Linked DNA regions of Homo sapiens: region 2 is linked to region 1. Evidence: fine-mapped expression QTL. A gene starts in region 1. The other region holds a variant in brackets. All regions are shown on one strand. Distances are between the middles of the regions. Region 1 holds the start of IL5RA (interleukin 5 receptor subunit alpha). Region 2 overlaps CNTN4 (contactin 4).

Region 1 (16,181 bases):
ATGAAGGAAAGGAGTCTGAAAGCTGAAATAATCTGCCAAAGATCAAACAGCTGTTAAGTAATGGAGCCTAGACCCAATCTCTGATCTTCCAATGGCAAAACCTATGCTCTGTCAACTTTATGGTACTAATTACAATGATTTATAATTTCATTTAAAACATTTATTTAAGTGGCTTGGTATTTTCCAAATATAATTCCAGTAGAACCACAGGAGAGACCTGGGCTAAATGAATACCTCCAGGAAATAGCACAGAACACTCTTAACTTCATTATTACTTCTTAAATTATTACTTAAGTTGCTACAATTACTGCTGAACTTACTAATGAAATTGGTAAAATGCCAAAACAGCAGGAAAGGATCGGCATATAAATCACTCAATTCCTTGTCAAATAAGCTTAAGTACTGTTAATCAGAAGTATGCCAGTTTTGATTTTAAAATCCTGTTTATTTTTCTCTGAGGATTTCACACCATGTAGAAATTAAAAAAAAAATGAAACGATGACGATGACAACAAAAGCAGGTACTCTATAATTTTTTTAAAATTTTCAACAAGTGAGAATTTTAATGAATTAAGGGAAAACACTAGTAATCTACTAAGCCTGAGAAGCAAAGATAAAAATTCCTTAAGAACAGCAACAAAGATAGCTTCCTCTTTAAGTTATGAAGGTGATTTCTTAAAATGTCAGCATTTCCTGAAATAATATTAAATATGCTCTGATTTTGCACTAATTTTCAATAATAGGAATTCTAGGTCAGAAAAAACTGCAAAATTAATATTTCTTTGTGACTTTCACTGACTGGCAAAGTAAAACTATGTTATAAATGTACTTGTAAAAGCAATAAACATGTATTTATCCTTTGCAATTAAATTGTTGAAGTAAATGATAAAACTGTTGAATATCTCAGTGGAGAGATAATTGAATATTTTATATGAGCAAGCACTCTCCCCTAGAATTTGTCATGTATTCTGATTTTATAGCTGCTAAAAATAGAATTGTTTTTCAAATTTAATCATTCAAAAAATTTTTGATTATTAGTTTTTGGCCATAAATAAATAGACAGCTTTTTCATGTCTCATTGTCATATTTAAAAAGAGGTGCTTTTGAACAAAATCAGTTGTCCTATAGGCAGCACAAGGTACTCAGTAGGGGTCTAAATATTAAAAAGAATGACATTTTTTTTTTTTTGTGAGTCAGATAAATTTTACATAAGGTTGAATAGTACTAGAGCTTCAGGATTTGATACCATGTTTTCTACAATTCTGCTCACTCTCTGTGGCCCCTTAATACTTCTTGTCCCTGCTTAAAACAACAACAACAACAGCAACAACAAATCTCTTCAGGCCATTTCTTTAATCCAAAGATACACTGTTATGTAGATGTCAACTGGGTCATATTTCACTATAAAAGAATAGAGCGACTTCATTAGCTTAAACATATATATCGACAATATGTTCGACTCATTCTTCTCATGGCTACCAATTAAAATCTAGCAGAAAACCATTAAATTGTTAAAATAAGATGCAAACTAAGCAGAATGAAGCAACTATAGGTTGTTTATCTATCACCAGGAAGACATGCTCAATCTTTAAGAGAAATCATGATCTCATGATCTACTTGCTCATATAACATTTCATTGAGTCAATCTAAAATTCCTCAAGTGCTCTCTAAAAATCTAGTTTCTGATAGGTGTTACATTTTTTGAAATTTTGGAGAAAACAACCACAGTCTCCTTCCCTATAGGTGTTTCTAGGAAGTTTGGTAAAATTTTGACAATTAGCAGTGGATTTCCCCAGCGTTCTTGAGAACTGGTCAAATTCTACTGAAGTTCAGACTTACAAATATTTTCCCCTCTTTTTTTTCCCAACTTATTTTTCTGCCTGGGGCGTTCGTTTTATAACCAAAGTTATACTGGCACCCCTGTTTTTAAAACCTTTTTGAGTCAACTGTGGTAACACCTAATTCCAGACTCAACCTTAGTGGCAGAAATTGTAAAGCAACTGAGAGGATTCATGCTCTGGTAGGCTTTTAAATATGAAGAGTTTACTTTCTCTTTTATCCTGTACAGTATAATCAGCAATAAAAGTTATCTCTTGGGGGATGAAGAATAAACCAAGGTATAAACTGCAAAAGACATGTTTACCTAGGTATATTGCATTACCCCCCAATGAAAAACTGCACATTCCTAAATATATAAATGAATAATAAGGACCACTTATCATGCATGCAATTTTTTTTTACTACTACTGTACTTTTGATTAAATTTCTGAAATAGTCCTAAAATAGAACTCATGAGTTCAGGTTGTGGCTGTAAACATAAAACTCTCTGTCAGTCCAAGTGGAAATGGTGTTGCCACCTTGAGTATTTGGAAAAATAGAAGAAAGAGTTTGCTACAAATATCCCAGTAGCAAAATATTTCCTGCCAATTGCACATGGTGCAATTTGTCATCTCACATCCATGCTCCTGGGCGTACCTGTCTACAGACGATCCTCTTGTTCCGACCAGTACTCAACAGAAGATGGCGAGGACCGTGTCTGTCGTGTCTATGCTCGTGGCTGCAACCCCAGCATCTAGCATAGCGTCAGGCACAGGACCAATGCTCAATGTGCCTGGCCCTGTGTGGAATAGAAGCAAATTAGTGCACAGCCCTAATGTGCAATGTGCGGTGAAACCTAACAGAGGAATGAGTTAGGTCAGGAGAGCAGCAGGCTGGGGAGTGTGTAACAAGCCTGGCCCACTTTTGGTATTTTGCCTAAAAATTTCCCATGCGGTGTTTCAAATAATATAAACAAATGAGGTGATTTAACTTCTAAAACTTTATTTTGCTTTGAAATGCAAACTTTTAACAAATAGCTACATAAATTCCTTTTTCGATAACCATGAAAGAGGACATATTCACTTAAAATAGAAATCATGCCAGGTAATAAAATGTTCAGTATGGTAATTCATTAAAGCAAGTACTAAGTACATTATTCACATGGCTATAAAAGCACCATCACTTTTCATGTGTTTATTAATTTTAGGCTCAAGGGTATTAAAATATTCTCGCTCTGTCTCTCCTTTTTCCCCCTTTTTTTTGGTTCCATTTCATCCTTTTTTCTGTCTACATGGAAATATGCTTACCTTGCTTTAGGTAAATACATTAGTGAACACAAAACCAAGTGACATATTTCAGCAAATTTGGGTACATTTTATATACAATGAAACAATCTTGGAAATCCAAGAACCCCTACCAGAAAGAAAAAGCAGAACGCCTCCTTCAGTTAGATAAAGTGCCTCTCTCTACTTTTTGTTGTTGTTTCTTTATTTGTAGATTTCTTGCTTAACTCTGAAACTTCCTGAGATATTTTATTAAACCCTATACCCTATTTTGGAAGCTCATTTATTTTCTAAGAAATCTTGGCAGAATATATGTTCTCATTTTAATTGCATAATTATCTGGAGCGGTGGAAAACAGATGTCTTATATTGATGTAAGCACTAACAAAACCATAGGTGTTGTTTTCATATGACTCACCTTGCCACGGATTTGCACATCTCACTTACTGAGCCAAAACACAAGAATAGAAGGTTATACCCAGAATCAACATGACCTGCCTAATGATGCAAGTTTAATGGGACCATTATTAGTTCTGTCCCTGCTAATAATAATAGAATTATAAGGAGTTTTGTTTCCCCTTTTTGTTGTTTACAAGTTTGTCATATATTTAGAAGTCATTGTTTCTTGCTTTTCCTAACCCTCCTCCCCACCCTGGGTGTAGTGAAATTATTAGGAGGTGGAGCACAGGGTATTGTTACAGCCCATGTCATAGAAAAAAGATATTTATTTGCTTACTCTGTGGTGAGTGAAGCATTTGATTCCCACTTACTGAGAAATGCGGTGGCCATGCGATGAGAAGCAGCGGCAGGGCATTGAGAACGAACCTTATCTCTGGGTGCACTTTTTAACTTAGAGGCGGTTCTTCACTCTTTCATCATCACGGCTGTAATGGTTAAAAACTCTCAGGCAGCTTCCTTCATGATGGGATGGCAACACGTTTTCTCTAAGCAAATATGGAGGAGGATTTGTACAGAGCAACTGTGCAGGAGCTGAACTGGAACTCCCAACAACCAAACTGCTGTCAAACGAAAGAATCTCTCGTCCAGATAGCCATTATCTGATAACTGTCTTGTCTGCATTTTCACTCTCTTTCAGAGTTGGTTTGCTCTCTTCAGGAGTGGGAATTAACTTTTACTCATGGTGACAAGGTAAACAAGTTTTCCGTGGGTACTCTAAAGCGTTGCATTTCTGTTTTGTTTATGTGCCTTGTTTGGCTACAGTAGTTACTGTGCCTCTGTCTCCTAGGCAACACTGACACATGATTTGATAGGAAGTAAGGCCTGAGGAGTACCCTCTCCCCACTCACTAGGCAATAGCAGCAATTCTCTGCCCTTAGAGAACCGCCTTAGCTCTTCTCTGCTTTGTGAGCAGGTCTGGTACCCTCAAGTAAATATGTGTGGGGGATGCGTTTCTGGGTGTGATAAATTGCTGCTGTCTGTCACCTGAGATCATCCTACACAAATTGTAACAATGGCAGTGTTGGTCTGTGGGTGCACCCAAGACCACCTTCCTCACGTCACATCCATTTTACCACCCAGCTGTCTTCAGAATGCTTCAATTTCAGCAAACCTCCTTGGCTTTTCCTGTCCTTTGTTCCATTTCTGTTTGATTCCTTCTGGGGAATTTCGAGGTGGCTAGCTAGCAAAGCTGGCTTTAAAAAAGTAGCTTAGCGTGTGAATAGATAAGAGTAGTGCTTATTGTATGACCCACGGCAGAGAGTAGTAAGTAGTTGCCTTTGGAAGGAGACCTTCAGTCTAGCCTAAGCGATGAGTGATGCAGGATTCCCTGTCTCCTTAGGAGCTGACTGGGAGAGTCTCAGACAGAGCAGATGCAGAAAGATGGTGGCCCAGGTTGGATCAGTGGTTCTGTTTGTGAGATGAGAGACAGGCTTCCTGGAGGCAATTTCCAAAAGGCTCAGTGTAGAAGCTGTGCAAGTACAGTCAGCGTGTGTGCCTGGGGTTCCCAAGGTGACCATTTTAGCAGTTGCCAAAATGAAACCGGAGCAATTGTTATCAGGTTGAAAATTGTTGTCAGACCTGAAAAATGTGATTTTCCTCGGGGAAAGGGGAAGTAAAACAAGGAACAGAGAGAGATCCATTTATTTGCTAAGAGGCACCCAGAAAAGTTTAGATATAGTATCAACTATCTGGCCTACTCTTTTAAGTCCTGCCCATCTGTTTATACATGTAACATATTTGTCACTAATGAAACCTTAAAAATACTTATTAATCATTGGGAAGACAGTAATTTCTGGCTTAAAAGCCTGCTTTAATGGCCTCTCTCCGTATATATATATGTATATTTTTTGAGATGAAGTCTCACTCTGTCGCCCAGGCTGGAGTGCAGTGGCGCAATCTCTGCTCACTGCAACCTCTGCCTCCCAGGTTCAAGCGATTCTCTTGCCTCAGCCTCCCGAGTAGTTGGGATTACAGGCACCCGCCACCACGCCTGGCTAATTTTTTGTATTTTTGGTAGAGATGGGGTTTCACCATGTTGGCCAGGCTTGTCTCAAATTCCTGACCTCAAGTGATGCACCCGCCTTGGCCTCTTAAAGTTCTGGGATTACAGGTGTGAGCCACCACACTCAGCCAATGGTCTGTATATTTCTTACATTCATTTACTCAAATATTCATTGAATGCACCTATGCACTATGCTAGGCGCGGTGAAGGGTATAAAGAAAATTAGATCTGGCTGCTCCTTCCATACCACCTTCCTGGGTATATGATCTTTAATTAACTACGCCAATAAAAACAAACAAACAAACAAAGCAAACACATGCTCATACAGAAACACTGTCTCTATGTTTCTGTATAAGCACAAACGAAAAAATGAGAGGCAGGGACTTTTTTTTTTTCTGGCGGGGGGTTGCGGGGGGGTTGTTTGTTTGTTTTGAGATGGAATTTCAGTCTTGTTGCCTAGGCTGGAGTGCAATGGCGCGATCTCAGCTCACCACAACCTCCACCTCCCGGGTTCAACCGATTCTCCTGCCTCAGCCTCCTGAGTAGCTGGGATTACAGGCCCCCGCCACCACACCCAGCTAATTTTTTTGTATTTTTAGTAGAGATGGGGTTTCACCACGCTGGTCAGTCTGGTCTTGAACTCCTGACAGGTGATCCACCCACCTCGGCCTCCCAAAGTGCTGGGATTACAGACGTGAGCCACTGAGCGAGGCCTGTTTGGTTTTTTATGGCAATAATTTAATTCTTTATAATAAAGTGTAAACGTCCAAAGACAGTATGATAGAACATGCTGGAAGAATTCACAAAAGTCGTTTTTTTAAAAAGTGAAATTAAATGTGTCTGCATCCTTTAAGCAAAACAATGTGAGTTTAGCCAAATAGAAATATGAATAGTAATAAAACGAAAATCATGGTTCAGTGGCTCTACCATGAACTTTGGTTAAAGGAGCTTATTAAAGGTATCAACTTCTAGAACTTGATTCCATGGAAATAATGGAAAAATGTAGATCAAGATTTATACAAAAGAGAGCAAAATTCATTGTACCTTTACAATAGTAAAATAGTAAAAGTACTATAGGAATGGTGAAGAGAAATATGTAACTGCTCAAGGTTGAAATATGTGATGTGGATGTCAAAAGGAATGTTTATCAATAACTTTTTTTTTTCTTTTGAGACAGGGTGGTGCCCTGTCACCCAGGCTGGAGTGCAGTGGCAGGATCTCGGCTCACTGCAGTCTCTGCCTCCTGGGTTCAAGTGATTCTCGTGCCTTAGCCCCCGGAGTAGCTGGGATTGCAGGCATGTGCCACCATGCCAGATAATTTTTGTATTTTTAGTAGGGAGAGGGTTTCACCATGTTGGCCAGGGTGGTCTCAAACTCCTGGCTTGTGATCCTCCCACCTTGGCCTCCCAAAGTGCTGGGATTACAGGTATGAGCCAATCAAGAACTTTTAATAACATAGGGTATTATGAAAAAATGTTAAGTAAAAACAACAGGAGGGTATACACACATGTAATTTTTTTTTACAGTCTTATTTTTGGTCAGAAGATCAGACTAACAGGAATAGTTATCTCTAAGTGGTAGGTGTATTAGTCAGCTATTGCTACAGAACAAGCAACCACAGAACCCTCAGTGGTAAACTGTGATAGGCATGTATTTGTAGCCCATGTGTCTGAGTTTTGACTGGGGTCTGCTTAATCTTGGGCTGGGATCCAGATCACAAAGTGAGTTCAGATTTGTTCCAAGTATCTGCCATTCATTTGGAACCAGTGGCTACCCAGGGCATAATCTTTTTATGGTGACAGCAAAAGTGCAAGAGAGCAGGACCAACTGCACAAGCACGCATCAAGCATCTGCTCATGTCACATTCCCTGACATCTCAAGAGGCTGAGCAAATTGCATGGCCAAGCCCGGAGTCAAATGGACGAAGCCCAAAGTACATTCCACCATGATAAGGCCATGATAAGGATGTGGACATGGACAACTCCTAGTGGGGAGTGAAGAAATGGGACCAACAGTTCATTCTACCACGGCAGGGTTAGTGTTTCTCTTACTTTTATTCTGTGTTTCTATATTTACAAACGTTTTATTCTGTACAAATGCAGGCAGAAAAAGTTATTTTAAAAAATATTAGAGACATACAGATCAATTTAATAGAATTGAGAGTCAAAAATAAACTCTCGCATTTAGGGTCAATTGATTTTTGACAAGAGTGTCAAGACAATTCAGCGGGGAAAAGATCAGCCTTTCAATAAGTGGTGCATATCCACATGCAAAAGAATGCCTCGCAGCATAGACAAAAATGAATTCCAATGGGATCAAAGACCTAAAAGTAAGAGGCAAAACTATAAAATTCTTAGAAGAAAACATAGGCATAAATCTTCATGACCTTCATTTTGTTTCTTTCTTTTTTTTTTTTTTTTTTTTTGAGACAGAATCTTACTCTGTCGCCTAGGCTGGAGTGCAGTGGTATGATCTCAGCTCACTGCCAACTCCCCTGCCTCCTGGATTCATGCGATTCTCCTGCCTCAGCCTCCCGAGAAGTTGGGATTACAGGCGTGTGCCACCACACCCGGCTAAGTTTTATATTTTTACTAGAGATGGGGTTTTGCCATGTTGGCCAGGCTGGTCTCGAACTCCTGATCTCAGGTGATCCACCCACCTTGGCCTCCCAAAGAGCTGGGATTACAGGCATGAGCCGCCGCACCTACCCAATGGTTTCTTCAATAAGATACAAAAGCAGACACAACAAAAGAAAAAAATAGATAAACTGGATTTCACCAAAATTAAAAGCTTTTGTGCTTCAAAGGATACCATGAAGAAAGTGAAAAAAGACCGGATGCAGTGGCTCACGTCTCTAATCCCAGCACTTTGGGAAGCCAAGGTAGGCAGATCACCTGAGGTCAGGAGTTTAAGACCAGCCTGACCAGCATGGTGAAACCCTGTCTCTACTAAAAAACACAAAAATTAGCCAGGTGTGGTGGCAGGTGCCTGTAATCCCAGCTACTCAAAGGCTGAGACAGGAGAATGGCTTGAACTCGGGAGGCGAAGGTTGCAGTGAGCTGAGATCGTGCCACTGCACTCCAGCCTGGTCAACAGAGCAAGACTCTGTCTGAAATAAAATAAAATAAAATACAAGGAAGTGAAAAGACAAGCCACAGCATGGGAAAAATATTTGCAAAGACATATCTGACAAGGAACTTTTATTTAGAATATGTCAAAAACTCTTAAAACCAAACAATAAAAAGAAAAATAACCCACTTTAGCCTGTAATACCAGCACTTTGGGAGGTTGAGGTGGGAGGATAGCTTGAGCCCAGGAGTTTGAGGCTCTGGTGAGTCGTGTTCGTGCCACTGTACTCCAGTCTGGGTGACAGAGCAAGACCTTTCTCAAAAAACGAAAGAAAGATAGAAAGAAAAAAGTAAAATAACCCAGTTTAAGCATGGGATAAAGAATTTGAACAGACATATCTCCAGAGAAGATGTACCAACAGCAAAGGTGCCTAGGAACATCTGCTCCATATCATTAGCTATTGGAAATGCAAATGAAAACCACACTGAGATACCTCTTCACACCCACTCCAATGGCTGAAATGAAAAGGACAATAACAACTGTTGATGAAGATGTGGAAACACTGGAACCCTCACATACTGTTGCTGGGGAGGTAAAGTGAGGTGGCCAATTTGGAAAACAGCCTGGCAGTTCGTCAAAAGGTTAAATGTGGAGTTCCCATACGACTGAGTAATTGCATTCCTAGGCAAATACCCACCCAAGAGAGTTAAAATCATGTGTCTACATAAAAATTTATATGTGAATATTCACAGAAGAATTAGTTATAATGGCCAAAGAGTGAAAACAGCCCAAATGTCCAGCAACTGATGAATGGATAAAGAATATGTGGTATATCCATGCCGTGAAATATTATTCAGCCATCAAAAGAAGCACTGATACTACAACATGGATGAACCTTGAACACATGAAGCTAAGTAAAAGAAGTCAGTCACAAAAGATCACACACTGCATGATTCCACTTATATGAAATGTCCAGGATAAGCAAATCTATAGAGATAGAAAATAGATTCATGGTTGCCTAGGGCTGCCGGGGGATGGAGGGAGTTTGGGAAAAATAAGAAGTTACTGCTAATGGGTATGAGATTTTCTTCTGGGATAACACAAATATTTTAAATTGATTGTATTGATGGTTTCCAACTCTGTGAATATATTACAACCATTGACTTGTACGCTTTGAATAGGTGAATTTTATGATATGTAAGTTATATCTCAATAAAACTGTCATTAAAAAATACCCTAGCAGGATTAGATACCCTCAAAGGATTGAAACAGAATTCTGGGTAATCGTTAGAAAAATTCTAGTGTAAAATCAATCTGTTGAGTTATCCCATGTAGCTAAAATTAAAAGCATATCTTTATTCAGTAAAGAATTTCAGTAGCTTAAGCTTTTTTCAGTTCTTTAGTCCTTTTTTCAGTTCTTTAGTCAGAGACCAGTTCTTTGCTCTGAAAACCAGATACAGGAAATCAACCAGAATGTGTAAAAACAATAGCAAAAACTACACAATTAAACTTCTTCTTCTTATTATTATTATTATTATTTTGAGATGGAGTCTCTTTCTGTCACCCAGGCTGGAGTGCAGTGGTACGATCTAGGCTCACTGCAACTTCTGCCTTCTGAGTTCAAGCTATTCTCCTGCCTCAGCCTCCTGAGTAGCCAGGACTACAGGTGTGCGCCACTACGCCCGGCTATTTTTTTTTTTTGTATTTTTTAGTACAGATGGGGTTTCGCCATGTTGGCAAGGCTGCTCTCGAACTCCTGACCTCAGGTGGTCTGCCCACCTCGGCCTCCCAAAGTGCTGGGATTACAGGCATGAGCCACCACACCTGGGCTAAACTTATGTTGTTAATGTAGATTAATGTCCCATTTCAGTCAAAAGAGAAGCTACCATGTTCCTGGGACTGTCAGTTGCCTTATACACACGATCACATCACAGCTCTATAAACCTCTTTTACAGATGAGTATACTGAGGCTTAGAGAATTTACATAGCACAGACTCTTTGTGATGCTCTCCAAATTCACATTGCCTAGAATGTCAAAACCTTAATTCCATGATTGTCATAATTATTATTTTCACAAAACAGTACAATTGTTTAACTTGGACTGTCTGATTTGATGGTGGTGAGTGTGGAGTTCCTCTTGAGAAACTCCTGATTATTTCAGAATAAGTCTGAATGTGATGTTATTTGGGAAGATCACTCTCTCTCTTGTCTTTCCCTCAAGTGTGCATTAAACTGCTGCTTGTATTTGTCTATTTAACATTATATATATATATATGTTATATATATATATTTATATATATATGTTATATATATATATTTATATATATATGTTATATATATAAAATATGTAATTTTTTTGAGGGTCTCACTCTGTCTCCCAGGCTGGAGTGCAGCGGTGCAATCATGACTCACTGCAGTTCGAACTCCTGCACTCAAGCGATTCTCCTGCTTCAGCCCTCCAAGTAGTTACGACTACAAGCGCACACCACCATGCCAGGATAATTTTTGTATTTTTTGTAGAGAGAAGATTTCGTCATATTGCCCAGGCTGGTCTCGAACTCCTAAGCTCAAGTGATAAACCCGCGTTGGCCTCCCAAAGTGCTGAGATTACAGGCATGAGCCACCATGCCTGGCCTCATTTAAATTTTATATCATACCAAATATTATGTTTATATCTCTGTCTCCACCACAGAGATGGCCAGGTGCAAGTCTCATACCTCCGATCTGAATGTAGATTAGACAATAGGTCTTTATTTTATCGAGCTTGGTTTTGCCAGAATTCATCCTAGTATCCAGCACACAGAGGAGGTCCTCGTGCTTTAAGGAAAGAGGGTTTCTGTTTTTGTAAAAGGGAATTCCATTTGAACCTATATTTTGAAGGTAAAAAATGCAATGGAGAACATCACAAGGAAACTGAATTAGGCTCCTCTTGATTCTGATCTGAGGCTGCTGATAATTCAGAATTTTGAAGGTGATTATTCTCAGTCTTTACCCTTGGGCCTTTGTTCTTTTAACTATTATTGAAGTCTCATCTTTTAAAATTAATGACCCGGTATGACATTTCAGAGCAGCTAAAATTGATTTGTCTATTTACTTACCTCTTTTAAAAGTAAAATAAAATTGCATTTGTGTGTAAAATCCCCCAGCACCAATGAAAATTGCGATTCTACATTTGCTGAGAAATATCTTTATTTGTCCTCTGGGAGATCTTAAACTTTAGTTGCCTTCTATTAAACTTTTATGAGAACAAAACTAGCAAATGACTTTTTCCCCAAACAGGTACTTTTGGTTGTTTCAAAGAAAGAATACATTCTTGAAACAGAACTTGTTCTTTTAAACAAATTACTCAGTGTCACTTACAATGAAAAGTGAGGGTGGGGAGGGGTGTGAATAAATTGCACAATATTAAAATTAGGTCATATTTATGTTTTTTCTGACTTGTCTAAATATTGCCTCAAATATCTTCCCCAGGAGGCCTAAAGTGCTATAATTTAAGTTTTTTGCAGAGACAGAGTTACACTATGTTACCCAGGTTAGTCTCAAACTCCTGGGCTCAAATGATCCTCCTGCTTCAGCCTCCTTAAATGCTAGGATTACAGGTGTGAGCCACTGTGCCCAGCCTAACCCATATTTTTATGGAAAGCATTATTTTCCCTTCACTGTCCTTTTTTATTTATTTTTGAGTTGGAATCTTGCTAGGTTGCTGAGGCTGGAGTGCAGTAGTACAATCATGGCTCACTGCGGCCTCAATCTCCTGGGCTCAAGTGACCCTCCCACCTTAGCCTCCCAAGGAGCTGGGACTACAGGCTTGTGCCACCGCACTTCGCTGCTTTTTTTAAAAAAATCTATTTTTAGTAGAGACAAGGTCTGGCCATGTTCCTGGTGCTGGTCTCTAATTCCTTAGCTCAAGTGATCCTCCAACTTTGGCCTCCCAAAGTGCTGGGATTGCAGGTGTGAGCCACTGCACCCAGCCTAATTCCTATTTTTATGGAAAGCATTATTCTTCCTTCTCTGTCCTATTTTAAAATATAAGTGCACTGGGAACAGTGATATGTTAGGGAAGGCTGATGTGGAGGGGACAGTCCTAGAGTAATTGCTGGTGGGCAGTGGCGAACTCCATCAGTAAGGTCTCACCCTGCTATTTGATGGGTCTACCTCTACTCGGCTGTGGGTTTTCATTTGAAATCGAACTACCTGTGGCTCATGCCTGTAATCCCAGCACTTTGGGAGGCTGAGGCAGGCGGATCACCTGAGGTCAGTAGTTGCAGACCAGCCTGGCCAACATGGTGAAACCTCGTCTCTACTAAAAATACAAAAATTAGTGGGGCGTGTTGGTGGGCACCTGTAATTCCAGCTACTCTGGAGGCTGATGCAGGAGAAACGCTTAAACTCGGGAGGCAGAGTTTGCAGTGAGCTGAGATTGCACCACTGCACTCCAGCCTGGGCGACAGAGTGAAACTCCATCTTAAAAAAAAAAAAAAGTAAAATAAAAAATTAAATGAATAAATGAAATTGAACTACCTGCCTAAAACCCAGAAAGGTGGGTGGGGCTGGGGGGAATAGAAAGAGTATTCAGCATTGAGGCTGATGCAGTTAATGCTAAGTCGAGCCATCAATTCTTTGTGACATCATTTTCCTTGATAGTCCTGTTATCTTTTCATCCACTAAGTTACTAAAGCACAGGCTCGGAGGTTGTGGTAGGCAGCCCTGTGGACCCATTTTAGACTTCTGACCTCCAGGACTGTGAGATGATACACCAATGTGGTTTTAAGCCTTGAAGTCTGTGGTAATTTGTCACAGCAGCCATAGGAAATGAATGCAGGGGTCTTTCCTCATGTCTCATTCCACTCCACCCTCACCGCCTTCCAGTTTGACTCTAGCATTCACTCAGTTCTCTTCCCCACTGTGGCAACGTGCTGGCCCACCCTCCTGGGCATAACTGCCCCAGCCTCTTGCTTGGGCTCTCCAACCCATTTTCATGCTGCAGTCTGCCTGATGGCAGGAAACCACAGATAGGTTTATGAAAACCCCTGCTTTGAAAAACCTTTAATATCTTGCTATTGCCATTAAAATTAAATCCAGATGTCATCCCGAGAAGCACCCAGCACTGCATGCTCTAGTCCCTGCCGTCTTCTCCAGCCTTATCAGTGTTCAATGGTGGTTTTGAGGCAGAATATCTGGCTCCAAATTCTGCTTGTGCCACTTACTCTCTGTAGGACCTTAGACAAATAAACCTCTCTATGCCTCAGTTTCCTCTTCTATACAGTACCTAATTGGATGTTTGTGAAGATTAAACAAATTAATCAAAATAAAATGCCTGGCACTATTCTAAACACAATACCATTGGTAGGTAGCCTTATTCTTACTGTATTACCCATGCCACTGGCAAATTGTGAGCACTGAAACCTCTGGTGAATGAATGAATGCATAAATGAATGGAAGTAATGTTACATTCACAACTTCTCTGTGTGTACCATTGCTTCTCTCTCTAGTGTGCAGAATGAATCAGTGTCACAGACACATAGTCAAAATTTAGATAAGCCAAGAGACAATTGAACACTGGGGAGCCACATTTTGGCTACTAGATGTACAAAGAACGGATCTAAGATCTGGTTTACTATGAAGAAAGATGGAAGCTCTTTGAGGCAATTGCTAAACTCTTGAGGGCATCTCTAGTAAGCACTGAAGGACACTCGAACCAGTGTTCAGACCTAACATTGGTGTATCTAAGAAATATTGATATATACTTCTAAGCTGTTCTTATCTTACTTTTCTGATTTTTTTTTTTTTTTTTTGAGACAGAGTCTCACTCTATTGCCCAGGCTGGAGTGCAGTGGTGGGATCTTGGCTCACTGCAACCTCCACCTCCCACGTTTGAGCGACTCTCTTGCTTCAGCCTCCCGAGTAGCTGGGATTTCAGTCATGTGCCATCAGGCCCAGATAGTTTTTGTATTATTATTCTTTTTTTTAGTAGAAACAGAGTTTCACCAAGTTGGCCAGGCTGGTCTCAAACTCCTGGCCTCAAGTGATCTGCATGTCTCAGCCTCCCAAATTGAGCCACCACTCCTGGCCTCCTGAATTTATTTAATAATGTGTAGCCTTCTAACTGAAGAGTAATATTCATGACTGTGGTGTTTCCACAGAAAGGTATAAACTTGCCAGATGCTAACAGCACTCCCTGTCTATGGTATTTACTTTTGGGTATGTTCTACAGAGAGAGAATATTTCCAGTAGGATTTCTGTGCAGTAAATGTCAGTTCCTTTGCAGATAAAGTTTTATTTCCTTTAGGATGGGTCTATATTAAGAGATAATAGAAAACGTCTTGTGTGGGAGAGAGGAGTTTGAGACCGCTTTGGTTGTCTTCACCATGTCCTAAGGGGTTGAACTGGGCATTCTGTCCAGAGTTCTTTCACCCTTTAGTTTAATGACCTCAAAGTTCTGTCCTGCTTTCATAGGTACATACTTCAATAATTGAATTTTCATGTTCTTAATTTTTTTTGCTAATATATAAAAATGTAATTACTTTTGGGGGGAGGCTTATTGAGGTATAATTTATAAGCAGGAAAGTTTACCTTTTAAATGTACTTGGTATGGTTTGGGTGTGTGTCCCCATTCAAATCTCTCATCAAATTGTAATCTCCAATATTGGAGGTGGGGCCTGGTGGGAAGTGACTGGATCATGGGGGTGGATTTCCCCATCAGTGCTGTTCTTCTCATAGTGAGTTGCAGTGAGATCTGGCAATTTAAAAGTGTGCAGTACCTCCCCACCACTCCTTTTTCCCACTCTGGCCATGTAAGAGGAGCCTACTTCCCCTTCACCTTCCACCATGTCTGCAAGTTTCCTGAGGCGTCCCCAACCATGAGCCGACCGAACGAACCATGAGCCAATTAAACCTCTTTTTTTTTTTTTTTTGAGACGGAGTGTTGCTCTGTCACCCAGGCTGGAGTGCAGTGGCGCGATCTCGGCGATCTCGGCTCACTGCAAACTCCGCCTCCCGGGTTCACCCCATTCTCCTGCCTCAGCCTCCCGAGCAGCTGCGATTACAGGCGCCCGCCACCACACCCGACTATTTTTTTGTATTTTTAGTAGAGACGGGGTTTCACCGTGTTAGCCAAGATGGTCTCGATCTCCTGACCTCGTGATCCACCCGCCTCGGCCTCCCAAAGTGCTGGGATTACAGGCTTGAGCCACCGCACCTGGCCTTAAACCTCTTTTCTTTATAAATTACCCAGTCGCAAGTATTTCTTTATAGCAGTGTGAGAATGGACTAATACAATACTGTTCTATGCATTATGGCAAATACAGAGTTATTTAATCACCACTATAATCAAAACATAGAACAAATCTATCACCTTTCTCTCCCCTCAAAATTCTCTCATGCGCTTTCGTAGTAAATACCTCATCCCATCTTGAGCCCCCTGGCAAGAACTGATCATTTTTTCTCTCTACAGTTTTGCCTTTTTTTTTTTTTGAGATGGATCCTTGCCCTGTTGCCCAGGCTGGAGTGCAATGGTGTCATCTCAGCTCATTGCAACCCCTGCCTCCCTGGT
Region 2 (16,181 bases), 80 kb before region 1:
GGTCACAGCCTCAGAAAAAATAAAGCAAAATTACTTAGTATTTCATCCTGCTCTTGGAGTCTACATTGTATTTCCACACAAGCTCACAGACTTTGTTGTTGTTATTGTTTGTTTTGTTTTAACTCTCCAGATCCAACAAGGGTAATGGTACCCCCTTCCAGTATGGATGTCACTGTTGGAGAGAGTATTGTTTTACCGTGCCAGGTAACGCATGATCACTCGCTAGACATCGTGTTTACTTGGTCATTTAATGGACACCTGATAGACTTTGACAGAGATGGGGACCACTTTGAAAGAGTTGGAGGGGTAAGTATTAATAGCAAAAACTGACTCAAACTAACTTGTTTAGACCAACTTAACAATATATTTAAAGTTACTATTTTAGAATTTTGTTCAAGTAATCTTATGGCAAGAAACTCTTGGTTAATTCCTGCTCCTTTTTGCACAATAAATGTGGCATCACTCATTGAACAACTCTATATGGCAGGACTGCTCCCTAACTGGCACCAATCCTACAGGTTAATTATTCATTCCTGTGTATGGATTAGAAACTAAGGCTCACAGGCATTGGATGACTTGCCTTGGCCTCATAGCTACTGAATTGTGGAACTCAGCTTAAAACTTCAAATCCCAAACTCTGTGTCACATATCATATCATATATCCTAGAATCTGACCAAGAAAATAGCTTAAGGATAGTTTCCTTCTGTTTTTAGGCTGCTAATTAAACTCCCTTTGACCTTGTAGAAGGCACGTCATTGTGAATTTAGGGTTTTCTTTCTTGAATTTGAAAGTCTGATGGGGTTATTTACTATCTCCAGGTAATTTGAATTCAAAATGATTGGATTTTCAAAATGCCTTCCTTTCCATAACGGTATATTATCATTGAACACATAACAAGAAGAGGTTAAATCTGGGAACAATTCCTATCAATCACAATCATTGTCAAAAAATTTTTTTCTGCTCTAACGCACCTCTGTGATCCCATTGACAATAAAGATGGACTCCGGCTGCCATTTTTATGATGGAGTCCAGCCAAAACATAGCGGAATACAAAAATGGGGCCCTGACTTGAAAAGCTCTCCCCACTTCCTAGGCTGCTATAAAAATCTGTCCACCCCCTTTACGTTGAGAATAAGTGGCCTAAAGTCATCCATGTGATATAGTGAGAGCATATTTTCCACCCAACTACAGTACTAGCCCTGTTCATCACAGTCTTACTACCTTTATCAAACAGGGTTTTTGCAGTTGAGTCACAGAATGCCCAAAACAATTTCAATGACTGTTGTCTCAGTTCTATGCCAAGAGTGGTATCTGATTGGTACAACTTTAGATGGCACAGGAAAGAAGTTAATTCGTTACATCAGTGGATGCCTGGGTTCACTAGGGATTATCTCTTGGGACCCTGACTGAGAAAGGCTGGATGAAATTGCCAGCGTAAACCATTCTGGACCTCTTTCACATGGTTCAGCTTAATAACTTTGGCTAAGTGAAAGAAATATTAACTACTTCACAAAGACATTGGAGATATTGAATATCCTGAGGTCTAGGAAAGTACATAGCCCAATGTCTACCACAAAAGAAGTACTTGATAAACTTTAATGGTGGTATTAATTGAAGGAAGGGTAACATTGATTGTAATAACAGGAAAGTGTAAATCGAGAACATTCTTCATAAATTAAGCAGAATGTTCTCACATTAAAACCAATTTCTTGGGCAGGAGAGATATTAAAAATGCTAAATCTCAGAATGGCGCAAGCACCAACCAATGAAAACAGATGCCCGACCAATCGAAGTGGACGTCCTACCATTCAGACACATGTAGCCTTTATGCCAGAATGGTGCCAGGGCTAAGGCAGAAACAGGGACACCTAATGAAGTCAAACACTGATGACTACCTTTTGTAAAGACAGCTGTCCGTAGAGCTGCTCACATTCATCTTTCATATGGAAAATGTCTATCTCCCCTGTTAAACTAGTGCTAACACCAATCAACTTCTGCTGAGAAATACATAGAAAATTAAGGACAGCACAACCACATGTGAGATCTAAGTGTACTAGCCACTAGGATCATTAATGTCTGTGGAGTCAGGACTTGACAATAGAAGAGATAAGCAAGCGCAATTTTGAAGTCAAGCCTATTTCAGCTTCGACTTCCTGGGTCAGCATGGTGGAAATGATGCTTGGTATAGAGTTAACCTATTGAGGTTTTATAAAAGTTATTATTTCATTGTCCTCTGATACACCCCATCCCCACCGAGTATTCTGTCAGGAACACAACAGACTGCGGTGGTGGAAAATAAGCAGATGCTGTTGTTTTCTTTGGTAGGAACATAAAAAATGTAGATCTTAGTTAATAGTTGGGTCTGGGTGACTTCAAAGGGAAAGAGAAAGTTATTGTGGTCTGCTTTGATGAGACTCTTACCTCACTCCTCACTCTATTTTTTTCTTTGTTTCAGTTTTACTTTAAAAACACAAATCCAGTCAAAATGTGTAAATAACTACAGTACTTCTGAATCGCAAAATCAAAATTTTCTATTAATAGGTTGCTGTGCTCTGAAATATCCAGGCTGCAAGTTTCTTTGACATTTAAGCCCTTCATGAATAAAGTGAATTAGATAGATGGTATAGGCATTTCCCTAAGGCCAATGTGGCTTCCCACCTTCCCTGCACGCATCCCCTGGGGCATATTTTTTATTTAAACCTGTATTCGAAGTCCCCATATGTGAAATTTCTTAGGTAAAGTATCAATAATCTTAATAATGATGATGATAATAGTGATAATTCCTGATACTTGCAAAGTGCCTAATCATTTATCGGGTACTTTCTTATATACACTTGACCCTTGAACAACACAGGTTTGAGCTGTATGGGTCTACTTATATGTGGATTTTTTTTCTACCACACTCAGATTGCAAATACAATATTCGTGGGATGTGAAATAACCCACATATATGGAAGACTGACTTGTCATATACTCGGGTTCCAGAGGGCTGACTGCAGGACTTGAGTATGTGTGGATTTTAGTGTACTACGGTCCTGAGTCCTGAGTCCAATCCCCTGTGTCTACCAAAGGATGACTGTAATAGCTCCTTAATCCTCACAGAAATCTTGTCAAATAGGTTAACAATTATTTTCCCATTTTATTGAGCAATTATAAGACTTGATCCGTAAACAGTGGCATCTGGATGAGAAGCCAAGTGTTACAAACAAAAGACGTTTTGGGTTAAAATACCATAGCTTTTCCTGAATTAGATTTAACATCTTGGACATGTCTGTTTCACAAAAAAATGGATCATGGCTGTCAGTAATACCAGTTTAGAGTTAATCTACGCTTCAAGGTTTCAGAAGATTTTCACATAACACAGATAATCTCATTTGATTTTCACAACCTAGCATGAAGGTCAATAAAGGTCTTTTGAAAGTCAGTAAATCAAGGCCAAGAGAGATTAAGAGATTTAGATGAAATCACACAGCAGGAATCAGCCCAAGACAACTAAGCACCAAAACTGTAGCTCTTCCTTCACTCCATGCTTTGGCATCTCTTCTAATCGTATTTCTAATTGGCAATTCTATCTCTTCCATTATCCTGTGAATGTGACACTCTGTACTGAAACGATGGAGATAACCAAATACATATTAATTTTGAAATAGAATGAGGATATGGTCTTTCCGGATGCTAGTCTAGTGTTACTGTTAAGAACAGGGACTATATGGGTTCAAATCCTGGCTCTGCCATTTTCTAGCTACGTGACTTTAGGCAAGACTCCTAACCTCTTTGTGCTGGAATTTCCTCATCTGTAAAATAAGGATAACAAGAATACCTGCCTCAGAGGACATGTGAGTATTTAGTGAGTTTAATATAGGTAAAGTACTTGGAAGCTGCCTGTCATATAGTAAATACCATTAAACATCATCCATTACTATTGTCATTGGAGAAATAGCAACACAAGAGTCTGTGTCAATTTCCTGTTGTATAGTTTGGAATGGGAAAATGAAGGAGGGCCAATATACCCTAAATTATCTTGTCATCCATTACGGGTTTAGAATGAAGTGTACTTTTTCAAATCTGGCCTCTAGGGTGGTCTCTTCATCAAGCAGCTATTCTCCAAACTTTGGATTAACAGGGCTATGAACCAAACTCCAAGGTGTAGCAGTGTTCTTCAGGTAAAGTGCTGCCTTTGTGATAGCCTGTGGAATCATCTCCTCACATTTATTAAAAGTACTGTGCTGGCGAATGCTGGAGAAATATTTCTGGGGCGCATAGACATCCAAACCAGGATGTAATTAGTCCCATTCTTCTGCTAATCAAACATGCATTTGGCATTTGGAAACCAAATGAGCACTGTTCCACACTAGGTGATGCGAGATTTCCTTGGAGAATCTGGTCTTCCTAATCCTTTCATTCCAACCTGGGAGCAATAACAATGCTGGCTCTAAGAAAGGGTTGAGCAATAAAATGCAGATACTTCCAAATGTGGGCTTGCTTCCGTTTTCCAAATACAGAGTTCTAAAGTATCCGAACGCCAACCAAGGCCATAGGCTGAGGGCATTTCTGAAGAAACTCACAAAACTAGATCGAGAGCCACCGTAGTACGTAGGACTTATGTAGCATGTAACTTACGTCCTTCCGACATGGGTGCCAAACTGCTCCAGAGACTCAGAGAAGCCAGACACCTGAGGTCTTGTCGAAGATGTGTTCTGAAAACGTCGGTGTTCCCATCTCTCAGGCAGGCTCACATATTTTTAACAGGCCATGGTTTGCATCACTAATGCTTTCATCAGCCAGTGTAAAATAAATCCATTAGTCACCGTGTCCTTCATGTGATAATGATATTTAGAGCTCATTAAAAAGTAATTGCAGCCACTTTCCCCTACTTTATCAGCAGGATTCAGCTGGTGATTTGATGATCCGAAACATCCAACTGAAGCATGCTGGGAAATATGTCTGCATGGTCCAAACAAGTGTGGACAGGCTATCTGCTGCTGCAGACCTGATTGTAAGAGGTACTGGATTTTGTTGTTATTGTTGTTCTTGAAATATTTTCATGATATCTACTGTAGCGCAGAGTTCCAGAAACCTCAGTGGTTTAGAATTATGGGAAAAAGTCAGGCAGAAGCTGAACATTGTAAACAGTGGCTAACAGTCCACAGAAGTTTCTGGTTCATATACAGTTCCTCAGTGCGGCTTGTCAGAAAATGCACCGAACACATCCAGTAACTTTACACTAGAAGGATAATTGAGTAAATCGAGTACCCGATTACGGCTGTTGGAGTTGATATGACCTTCTAGAACAAATTTAGGTGAACAAAAGCAGATAGTTTAAAGAGGGATTAAACTGTCCCTTTTTATGTTTCATCTGGGCCAAACTGAATTAGTATCCTAGGCCACTGGTATAACAGCAGCTTAAGTAAAGTCATCATCAGGTTTATCCGAGTTTCCTTTTTTCCCTAAACTTCACAGTGCTGTTCGGTTCCTAAAATAGGGTTTTGGGAGAGGACACTTCCTGACTGCCTGGGATGTAGTAAATGAGCTGAGAGTTGATGTAAATACTAACATTTTTGAGATTCTCTTGAATATTATCAGCATGACCTAATTTGGACCTAAGAGCTATGACCCCCCCGGCTGAGCAACACCAACTGAGTACATTCCAAGCCTCACCAAACCGGTTGGCAAAGGAACTGTAAATGGACTTTTAAGAAATATTTTTAAATGAAAATTAAAATCTTCACTAACCAGTGTACATACCAGAATCCAACCTATGCATGCTCAGGGGTTTTCTATAGCATTAAAATAGAGGCCAATCCAGACATCAAAATAATATCTTAGCTAGAATCTCCTTCATCAGAATCCCTGACTGTTGGTGTTCAGGCATCTTTGGCCGGCTGGCAGAGCGCATGGCAAAACTTCGAACGCAAGAAAATAAAAATTTAGGGTATGAGCGTTGGAGGCAGGGTTAATCTGCATGCACAGAGAACAAGGTATTATTGGAAGCCATAAAGAGTGTTGCTGTATCCTCTAGGCATAATGTAAGGGGGGAAATGTGTGGGAGTTACCAACTTAAACTGATTGTGAAGAGAGGGTTCAAGAGAAATAGCAATTCCAATGTGTCTGCTTTGTTCCCCTTTCAATTGCCTTTAAAAAAACTTTCAGCAACAGTGCAGACAAGGGCTGGAAATGAGAAAAAACTTTCAACCGAGGTAGATCTGCCCACAGAATAACTTATAGAAATGTGTTTATTTCCATTTGAAAATACACCAGGCTGGTCTGCCCTCCCCTTGGGAACAAAAGAATTCTGTTGCTGAAAATTTATCCTCTATTTAATTAGGATAATGTTCAGATCAGCAGTTAAAACACCAATAAATTAGACTAATAAATATTTAAATCAGCAATACTTGAAGTTCTTAAATGATATTGTATACTTCATTTCACAGAAAATAACATTAAATACCAGGAGGAATTTGCAAACGCAGTCTAAAAGAAAATCTAGTCTAATCAGTTAATAAGGCCAATAAATTAATGTGCCATTTAAAACCATAATCTTTCATTTTATCTCCTTCTGCTCTGCCCTTGCAGCTTTTCTTGCACATTACAGAGGGGGAGGCAGGAATGTATTTCACCACCCTGAAAGACATTTTCATATTTGAAACGTATAGCAGCTTTGAGTCTTGGCTCCAGATTCTTTGATTTTCTGAGGCCTGTTCTATTTAACCTATAGCACTGTAATGGCAGCCAGAAAGGCCACCCTTCCTGAGGGAGAAGCAGACCCCAGAATCAAACTAATCTTCCCTTTGCCATTGCCTGAAACAAAATCTTCTACATGCCCCTGAGTGTGTTATCATTTTGTTCAGAGGACAAACATTTGTACATTTTTCATTTTGAAAGAGGGAGTCCACTTCCCTAAAACAAAGTTGGTAAACATTCTGTAAGGTCGTAGCTATGCATCGGTAGGAGAGGGTGGCAGGAAGATAAAAAAA[A/G]GAACAAACAAATCCAGGAAACTACCATCTTCTCTCCAGTGTCCAAACTCATACCAGCCCTTCATTTTCTTCCTATAGAGAGGCCAACAATGGACTCAGATATTTCCTATCGATTTAATTCTTTGAAGAGTTCAGAGGGAAACACTTTTCTATTTGTGGTACTTAGATTTTAAAGGACATCAGTGCAGCATCCATTAAAAAAAATGGTGGGGAATGCTAGGATGAGAAAACTAGTGAAAAAAATTATATTGTCTTCTAGACTTTATCTGGTTAAAAGGGGTCCCAAGACCAAAGGTTACATCAGCTCTATCTAGGTGACATTAGACTGACATGCTGAAATGTCACCATGGAAAATTAATCAGTTCCAGCATACAGATTTCCAGACATTTCATTCAGGAGTGGGAGGGAGAAGATAAATTTAGTCTCACCTGTGGGTCTATAAAAGTGATTTTTAAAAAAGGAAAGGGAATTTAGGGCATCACGTAAACGGTGAAGGAGTGAATCCTAGAACAAAGGCTAACTTCAGGAAATTGCTGTTAATTTTGCACTGCTCTGTGAGAGGTTTCTTTTTTCCCTGTCCCTGTGACATGGCCTGATAGTATTTGGGTAGTACATTTGATTGCTAGACTGGGGATTAGCAAATCCTTCCTAGGAACATCTCCTTATGCCCGTCTAATGGGCATGAGGTTTGTCATTATGTCCCCTCACCATCACCTTCCCTCCTGAGGTGGTCAATTGTACCTTGTTAAAAATGCATTTAACTGCCTGGTAAGAGATTTTCATGTTGGAAAGTGGGATAGCTGCGGGTCTTTGCTCTGGCTCTGTTGATATTTTGTCTTTACCTGCCAGCTGCTTTCCATCCCTCTATTTCTTTATTAGTTTCAAGCCTTCATTTAAATCTGATTTCCTCCCCTTTCCATGGTTTAAGTACATGGACAGAAACAACGAACATCAGGAAGAGAAGTAGAAAAATACGGGTATGAGTTGCAGAAACTACAGATGAGGGTCTTTAGTATCTAGCCTAATTTTGAAATTGCTTTGAAGAAGGGAGCGCCTTGACTCTTGCGCACCGGCCATTTTCACAGCAGTTCCCTTGCACGCAAGTGTGTGCTCACGTGGGAAGCAGGGTTGGATGTGAAGAGAGTGCTAGTAATTACAGTGCAGCAGAATGTGCAGAGCAACACTGTAACCTTCAAAGTTTTAAAGCCATTTGTGCTTAAATCTATATTCTCAGTGGTAGAAATAACCATTTCCAGCAGACTATACTCTTTATGAAATCAGGAGCAATATCTATCTTTTCTCACTACCGTATCCTCAAATAACACTGTCTGACCCATATTAGGAACCTATAAATAAATAATGAATTAATGAATGTGGGCTCTTATGGTACCCCAATACTCTCTATTAACATTAAGTATTCAGTTGTAATTATTTGTTTACCTATTAGTTTTTCATATTAAACTGTGGGCCCCTAGAAGGAAGGGGCTGTGTTTCATTCACCTCTGTGGTTTCCAAGCCCAGGAAAGTTCCAAGCACGTAGTAGGAGTTCAAAAAGGATTTGACAAGTGATGAATCTGTGAATGGGTAGATAAATGAATGGGTCAATGCCCCATTCAAGTATGTGGCTCCTTTACTTGGGTGTTTGAATACACTGCTCCAATTCTGGGGGTCTTGCTCTTTCCCAGGTCCTCCAGGTCCCCCAGAGGCTGTGACAATAGACGAAATCACAGATACCACTGCTCAGCTCTCCTGGAGACCCGGGCCTGACAACCACAGCCCCATCACCATGTATGTCATTCAAGCCAGGACTCCATTCTCCGTGGGCTGGCAAGCAGTCAGTACAGGTACCATATTGGATGCTTGGCTCAGAGACATTGGGAACTCAGCATACTGGACACAGCACTGTGGCAAGGAACGTCTAAGTTCTCATTCAGACACTACTACAAATGATATATTATGGCAGTGTTTCCTAAACCTCGGCCAACTGTACTATCATTAATATTTTTCTTTATATCAAATCACAGTTGGGTTTTTTTAAACTCATCCTAAGCAATAGTATCTGTGAAATGGTAATGTCCAGGCCAGATTTGGTGGCTCACGCCTGCAATCCCAGCACTGTGGGAGGTAGAGTTGGATGGATCGCGTGAGCCCAGGAGTTCCAGACCAGCCTGGGCAACATGGCAAAACCCCCTCTCTACAAAATATACAAAAATTAGCCTGGCATGGTGGTGCGTGCCTGCAGTCCTAGCAACTCAGGAGGCTGAGGTGGGAGGATTGCTTGAGCCCAGGAGGTAGAGGTTGCAGTGAGCCAAGATCACACCACTGAACTCCAGCCTGGGTGACAGTGAGACTCCGTCTCAAAAAAAAAAAAAAAAAAAGTCTGTTGTGCTGGTTGTATATGTATTTTCCGTAACACACATTAAAAATATATTAGTTATAAAAATAAAATGCATCAATCTGTATTACCTAAAATCATCTGTGTAGCACTGTGGTTCACTTTGGAAAGCAGCGGATTCTGCCTGACTATAGTCACTTAATAGTCACAGACTTCATAAAGTTTACACAGTGCTCTCAAAAACCAATAACAGAGGATTATAGGGAGCCTCTTCACTTGCTGCTGTGTTTTTTGAGACAGGGTCTCACTCTGTCACCCAGGCTGGAGTGCAGTGGTACAATCACAGCACACTGCAGCCTCGACCTCCTGGGCTCAAGCAATCTTCCCACCTCAGCCTGTTGAGTAGCTGAGACCACAGGCGCAGGCCCCCACACCCAGCTAATTCTCTAAAATTTTTTGTAGAGACAGGTCTTGCTATGTTGCTTAGGCTGGTCTCAAACTCCTGCGCTCAAGCAATTCTCCATCAGCCTCCCAAATTGCTGGGATTTCAGGCGTGAGCCACTGTGTCCAGCCCCATTTTTTTAGATGGATAAATTTGGGGATAAAAAGACATGAGATTTCTTTTTAACCAATTTTACAAATTCTTAAAAAAAAAAAAAACATTGTTAGCAGCAACACTTCCATCCTGTTTCCCTTTATTACATGTATACAGCACTTCCTATTTTTTAAAAGTTTCACAGTTATTTCTCTTTGCATGTAAAAGAATTCTTATACCAACCCCACTCTGTCAGTACCTCCAAATTGACTCATTTTCTTATTTAGATTTCATTTAAGGATAAATTGGATGAACAAGTAGTTATTACAAACAAAGATACACACTCCTCTAGACAGCAAAAGTAGGCTATATGGCCTTGATGTTTTGAAGGAGAATATGCCCAGTGTTGAGCAATTCATATAAATCTTGTTGATTTTAACCCATTTGTTTTTTTCACTTTAGTTTACTAATCCTTAGAAATGGGTTTCTGTGTTTCCTTCTGTAATCACTGAGTCACAGGTGTGCTTTAAGAAGGAAATATGAGAAAAATATAGAAGTTAGGAGATGAATTCTAGACCTGACTGCTAATCAGCTGATCTCTATACATCTTCATTTTCCTCTTCTGTTAAATGGGCACAATAAGAATTGTTTAAGAATGAATATAGGCCAGGCGCAGTGGCTCACAACTGTCATCCCAGCACTTTGATAGGCCAAGGCGGGTGGATCGCTTGAGCCCAGGAGTTTGAGAGCAGTCTGGGAAATGAGGCGAAATCCCGTCTCTACTAAAAATACAAAAAAAAAATAGACAGGCATAGTGGCATGCACCTGTAGTCCCTGCTACTCAGGAGGCTGAGGCACAAGAATTGCATGAGTCTGGGAGGTGGAGGTTGCAGTGAGCCGAGATTGTGCCACTGCACTCTACCCTGGGCATCAGAGAGAGAGAGAGAGAGACCCTGTCTCAAAAAAAGAAAAAAAAAAAGAAAAGAAAAAAAGAATATAATACTTTTACCTTTCTCAGAGGATAGTTGAAATAGTGTGTCTGGCACTATACAATAAATGCGGAAACACATGTGAAGGGGTGATAGTAATGATTGAGTCAGGTAGTTTGGGGTCTTGTGGACTGTGTGTCTTTTATGATGTCATCTGCTGGTATCTGATTAGAGTGTGTTAGTTTAACATACAGAGATAGTTCTGAGATTACCTCACTGAAACAACTGTTGATGCAGCTAATATCAGAACACCTACACTGCCCTGAATACAATAATGATGAGGATGGATGGATGTTCCTATCTTCCTAACGTAATCTCTGCATTTGTTTTCTGAGAACCTATGAAACAGCCCCCACCTTTTGTTGTCTTTCAGTCCCAGAACTCATTGATGGGAAGACATTCACAGCGACCGTGGTGGGTTTGAACCCTTGGGTTGAATATGAATTCCGCACAGTTGCAGCCAACGTGATTGGGATTGGGGAGCCCAGCCGCCCCTCAGAGAAACGGAGAACAGAAGAAGCTCGTGAGTAGCACCCGAGATTCAGATCATCTGTTCTGCCAGCTGCTGTTCCTTAGGAAAAGCGTTTGAATTCTTGCTGCTCTTCAGCGCTCATGCGGCTCTGTGTTAGCTCACCCTTCCCTTTAAATGTTTATAATGATAGAAATCAGGCCAGGAGAAGCCCAGCTGAACACGCAACGGGTTTCAATCAAGAGTTGTTTTCTTCATTAGGTCCACTTGTACAGCAAGAGACACACGGTGCTTAGTCCTCTCAAAAGCCAGCCCTTTCTTCATTGGTTCATTTGTCACCAAGATTCTAACAGAATTTCAAAAAAAAATCCCACATTTCAAATAAAATTATCTCACATAAGTAACTAATGGCAAAGAATAATTTGTGACTGCTCTGGACACAGCCACCATGGGGTAATCCTGTTTAGAATAGAAATAAAAAATAATTTCTTCAGAAATGTTCACTTAGATTATCTTTCTTAGGGTATAAACCATTCCCAGAAACGAAGATTCAGAACATCGTGCTCATTCGAACAAGACCAGTCAGCAATTCAGTATGGCCCTCTGCATATGCAGCTTGAATGAGCACGGGGAGAGAAGAACAAGTTCATCAGGGTCAGCCGTACTTTTACTTAGCTGGTGTAAAGCAAGAGGCCTACATGTGCCGTCTTTTATAGAGTTCCCGCCTGTAGAGAGGCCAGTGTGTTGAAGGAATAATAAGGTCCCTACACAAATAGGAGTTCTGACCCTACTCTCAGAAAAGCAAAAACTCATCTAGATCTATTTGATTGGCTTTAACCAAGGAGACATACCCAGTCACCAGCCACATACCCCAGTGAGACCTTTTTAAATGTGGCCCGGAGCCTTTCAGTTACGTGATGACAATATAGCTAGTCCCCTGCTTTCTTTTCCCCTTCCAAAACCATAATTGAATTAATTCCCCTCAGCAATCCTGAGGTGGAAGCTCGCATAATTTCCTCTCTTTTATAGAGAAAACTGGTGATCAAAGAGGTTAAGCTCAGTGAGCCGGGGGTCAACTTCTGTCTGCCACTTCCTTCAACACTCAGATCAAAACTCTTCCTCCCAGAAGCCATTCGCCCACCCCAGCTCTGAGCAGGGCGCTACTCCGGAACGCCCCCCGCTTCTCCATGCTGACTGTTCCTTACCCTGGTTGTCGACCTTGCTCTAACTGGTGCAGGCGCTCCTCCACTCCAACCAGCTTGTAAGCTCTGCCTGGGCAGAGCTTGTACTCTTCCCTTTGTGTATCTCCACGTGGCTCATAAACGCATAACCAAACATTAGGACCAGACTTCAGTCCTTTCCTCCCTTCGGGAACCCCTCGGCCTCTAGGGATGGAGCTGAACAATTGGTCAGACGTGTCAGATAACACGTGTGCCTTGTTGAATGGGAAACAGGTAATTAATAGCAGTCTCCTTGGTACATTTCACTTCCTCGAGCGGTCGCCGTGGGCCCCTTGACAATGCTGTTGCTGATCTCCAGAGACAAAGGGGCGTGCCTCAGAGTACTCACTGAAAGTGAGTCACCTCTGCCAGGCAACCTTCCTGGCCCTCATTCGCCTTTGCCGCCTGACATAACTTGTTTTTTGTCTCCTTGTGCAGTCCCCGAAGTCACACCAGCGAATGTCAGTGGTGGCGGAGGCAGCAAATCTGAACTGGTTATAACCTGGGAGGTAAATGAATCACAGAATAAAAGGAACGTACACGCATCGAAGCTATTTTATTATTTTCCTCCATGTTAGACATAGCTGGGAAGTTTCCTCCTCTGTTTTTAACAGTGAAAATTCATTTGGGTTCAGACACTCCCTCTCACGTAGCTAATGGCTAGCAGGAAGGACGGCACTTGCCCATCCATTGTTGAGGCAAGTTTTAATTCAATCCATCACAGTAAAAACAATTATGAAGGGAAGACAACACACGTTACAAAAAAAAATAAAGAAGGCTGTTTCAGAGAAAACTAGTTTTTCTTTTCTTCCTGAATTGCTGCATGGCCAATTGATTTAAAACGTCTGCCAGCAATAGATTCAGTGCACCAGCACAATTTCCTGGCAATTGGCTTTGCTTCTAGAAGGGGCCCTCTTTTAGGAGGTATTTTTTAAAACAACCTGGAGGAAAGTTAGTCACCAATTTATTAAAAATTGGCTTTGAGAGAAGAGGTGGGAGCTTTAGAAAGGGTTCTTCATGTTTTTGAAAGATTCTAAACAGCCCCAGAAATTAAAATCTCTCATTTACCCAAAGCACAGCAGTGAAAGAAATCACTCATCCCTCCAGCTGAACTCTTCCCTCTGAGAGGGAGGATCTTCAGCCAAGATGGTTTTTCTTCCTTCAGTGAGATCTTTTGTCTATTTGGCAATGGAAGAAGATTAGTATTAGAGGATACGTGTTGGAAATGTGGTTTTTCAGGAGACCGATGTCCAGTGTTTTTTTTTTTACAATCATTTCCAACCATTTCAGAGCTGGGTCTGCCCCATCAAAGAGCAAGCTCTGGACTGCAGATCCTCATTACGTTTTCAACCCTGTCCAGTACATCATAACTGTTTAAGATAGACTGACTGCAAGCCCTAAATTTAAAAGACTGTTAACAAAACGCCAAATAAGATGGGTGGAGAAGGATGTAGACAAGAATGTTACAAGGGAAACAAAAACGATTTTTGCATTTGAGTGAAACTACTGTGATTTCTGAAGACCACCTTCCTTCTTTCCCAGACGGTCCCTGAGGAATTACAGAATGGTCGAGGCTTTGGTTATGTGGTGGCCTTCCGGCCCTACGGTAAAATGATCTGGATGCTGACAGTGCTGGCCTCAGCTGATGCCTCTAGATACGTGTTCAGGAATGAGAGCGTGCACCCCTTCTCTCCCTTTGAGGTTAAAGTAGGTGTCTTCAACAACAAAGGAGAAGGCCCTTTCAGTCCCACCACGGTGGTGTATTCTGCAGAAGAAGGTATCGTTTATGCTGCCTAGATCATTGACTGTTAATATTTCTTCAATTCTAAAATGTGGATTGTAGCACGTACAATCAATTTCGCATGGTACATGTATCTTGAAGGCATACCTGATTTGAGAAGAGGATAATGTAAACAATTTGGTTCGCTGTCCACCATGAATCTCTTGAAAAGATAGCGACTGCTCTGTATATGAAAACACTTGGCTGTCCATTATTGATTCCATTGCTAAGGACCAGAATTGCAAATACCATATAAGATCTTCATATCTATCTATATGTTATCATTACTTTCAAAAGAATTTTATTTTTGCCTTTAAGTGAATATCAAAATATAATTTGCATTTTCTTACCACTTGTATTTTCATAAAGCATATGGTACTTGTGGCTCACACCTGTAATCCCAACACTTTTGGGAGGCCAAGGCGGGTGGATCACCTGAGGTTGGGAGTTCGGGACCAGCCTGACCAATATGGAGAAAACCCATCTCTACTAAAAATATAAAATTAGCCAGTTGTAGTGGCACATCCCTGTAATCCCAGCTACTCAGGAGGCTGAGACAGGAGAATCACTTGAACCCAGGAGGCGGAGGTTGCGGTGAGCCGAGATCGCACCACTGCACTCCAGCCTGGGCAACAAGAGCAAAACTCCATCTCAAAAAAAAAAAAAAATCTCACTTATTAAAGAAAAGAGTAAGTCATGAAGCAGTGTGATTGCGCTCACTGTCATCCACACCATCATTATGTTTAACATTTCTCACACATTATTATCACCTCCATGCTATCCCTGCTCTCGGGATGCCTCTCACACAGTCTTCGTTACCTTTGGAGTTCGTCTATGTTGTTTTAAAGATGATGCTCAGAATGGGACCATGTTAAAACATCTGAAAGGTGAATCATTGATTTAGAGTCAGTGAAGATGCAATAACTTATTCCCAATCAGAGAGATCATCCCCTTAGACTCAGTAGCCCTCCATGATCTAGCTGCTGCCTCTCTGTCTGCCTCAGCTGCTGATGCCTTTCCCTGCATATTTCATGTTCCAACCATTGCCAAAGGATTTACAATTATTCAAACAAGCTTCAGCCCTTTTCATAGCCTTCAACTTCTCTTAGATAATAGTTCATGTCTCTGGATTATGAAAATGAGAGGAAAAGGGGAAAAGGACAGTCAGCTGACTTGACTAAGATTCAAGAGAGCTGGATGACACTTCAGGTTCACACTGCAATCTGTATGATCTTGGATAACTCAGGTATACTCTGTGGGCCTCAGCATCTTTGGCTGCAAAGGAGAGGCTAGACTGACTGTTTCCCAAATTTCAGTTATTTTTGCCAGATTTCTGCCATAGCTGTGTACCATTTGTATATGTTCACATTTTTCTTTCAATAGTCTTCCTTAAAAAAAATTTAGTGGGCAAGCACAGTGGCTCATGCCTGTAATCCCAGCACTTTGGGAGGGGGATGTGGGAGGATAGCATGAGCCTAGGAGTTTGAGACCAACCTGGGCAACATAGCAAGATCCAAGTCTTTACAAAAAAACATTAGCCAGGCGTGTTGGCACATGTGTGTGTGGTCCCAGCTACTTGGGAGGCTGAGGCGGGAGGATGGCTTGAGCTCAGGAGGTCAGGCTGCAGTGAGCCATGATTGTGCCACTACATTCCAGCCTAGGTGACAGAGTGAGACCCTATTTCAAAAAAGAAAAAGAGAAGCAGTTTAGCCATGTCGTAAGCAATAACATTTGTGAGATGCTAATTAAGAAGGATCTGTGTTAAGGGAATTGCTGGCTATGAAAACTTGGTGCTTAAACTTAAGTGGTTCTTCTCTTCTACCCACACCTAAATTCAGAACCCAAACACTGGACAAATATTCACTACCACCAACTCCA

What was found.
Region 2: its variant is fine-mapped to the expression of IL5RA in whole blood (TOPMed, PIP 0.94).

The regions. Positions count from the first base shown.
Region 1 is chr3:3,106,076-3,122,256 of GRCh38, forward strand. It overlaps IL5RA (interleukin 5 receptor subunit alpha), which reads right to left and starts at 4,299. Exons shown (of 12, transcript NM_175726.4): 1 at 3,870-4,299; 2 at 2,475-2,616. LOC124909339 (a long non-coding RNA gene) reads right to left here. Exons shown (of 2, transcript XR_007095786.1): 2 at 15,922-16,181. RefSeq lists a silencer at 3,465-3,584 and an enhancer at 3,665-3,744.
Region 2 is chr3:3,025,972-3,042,152 of GRCh38, forward strand. CNTN4 (contactin 4) reads left to right here. Exons shown (of 25, transcript NM_175607.3): 15 at 131-306; 16 at 4,884-5,004; 17 at 8,661-8,819; 18 at 11,208-11,357; 19 at 12,962-13,032; 20 at 14,066-14,300. CNTN4-AS1 (CNTN4 antisense RNA 1) reads right to left here. Exons shown (of 4, transcript NR_046554.1): 3 at 15,074-15,183; 4 at 13,690-14,411. Among named protein-coding and RNA genes, the nearest start is that of CNTN4-AS1, 27 kb to the right of the region's middle. RefSeq lists enhancers at 4,625-4,794, 12,142-13,341, 12,576-12,685. The variant A/G (reference allele first, on the strand shown) is at 6,976.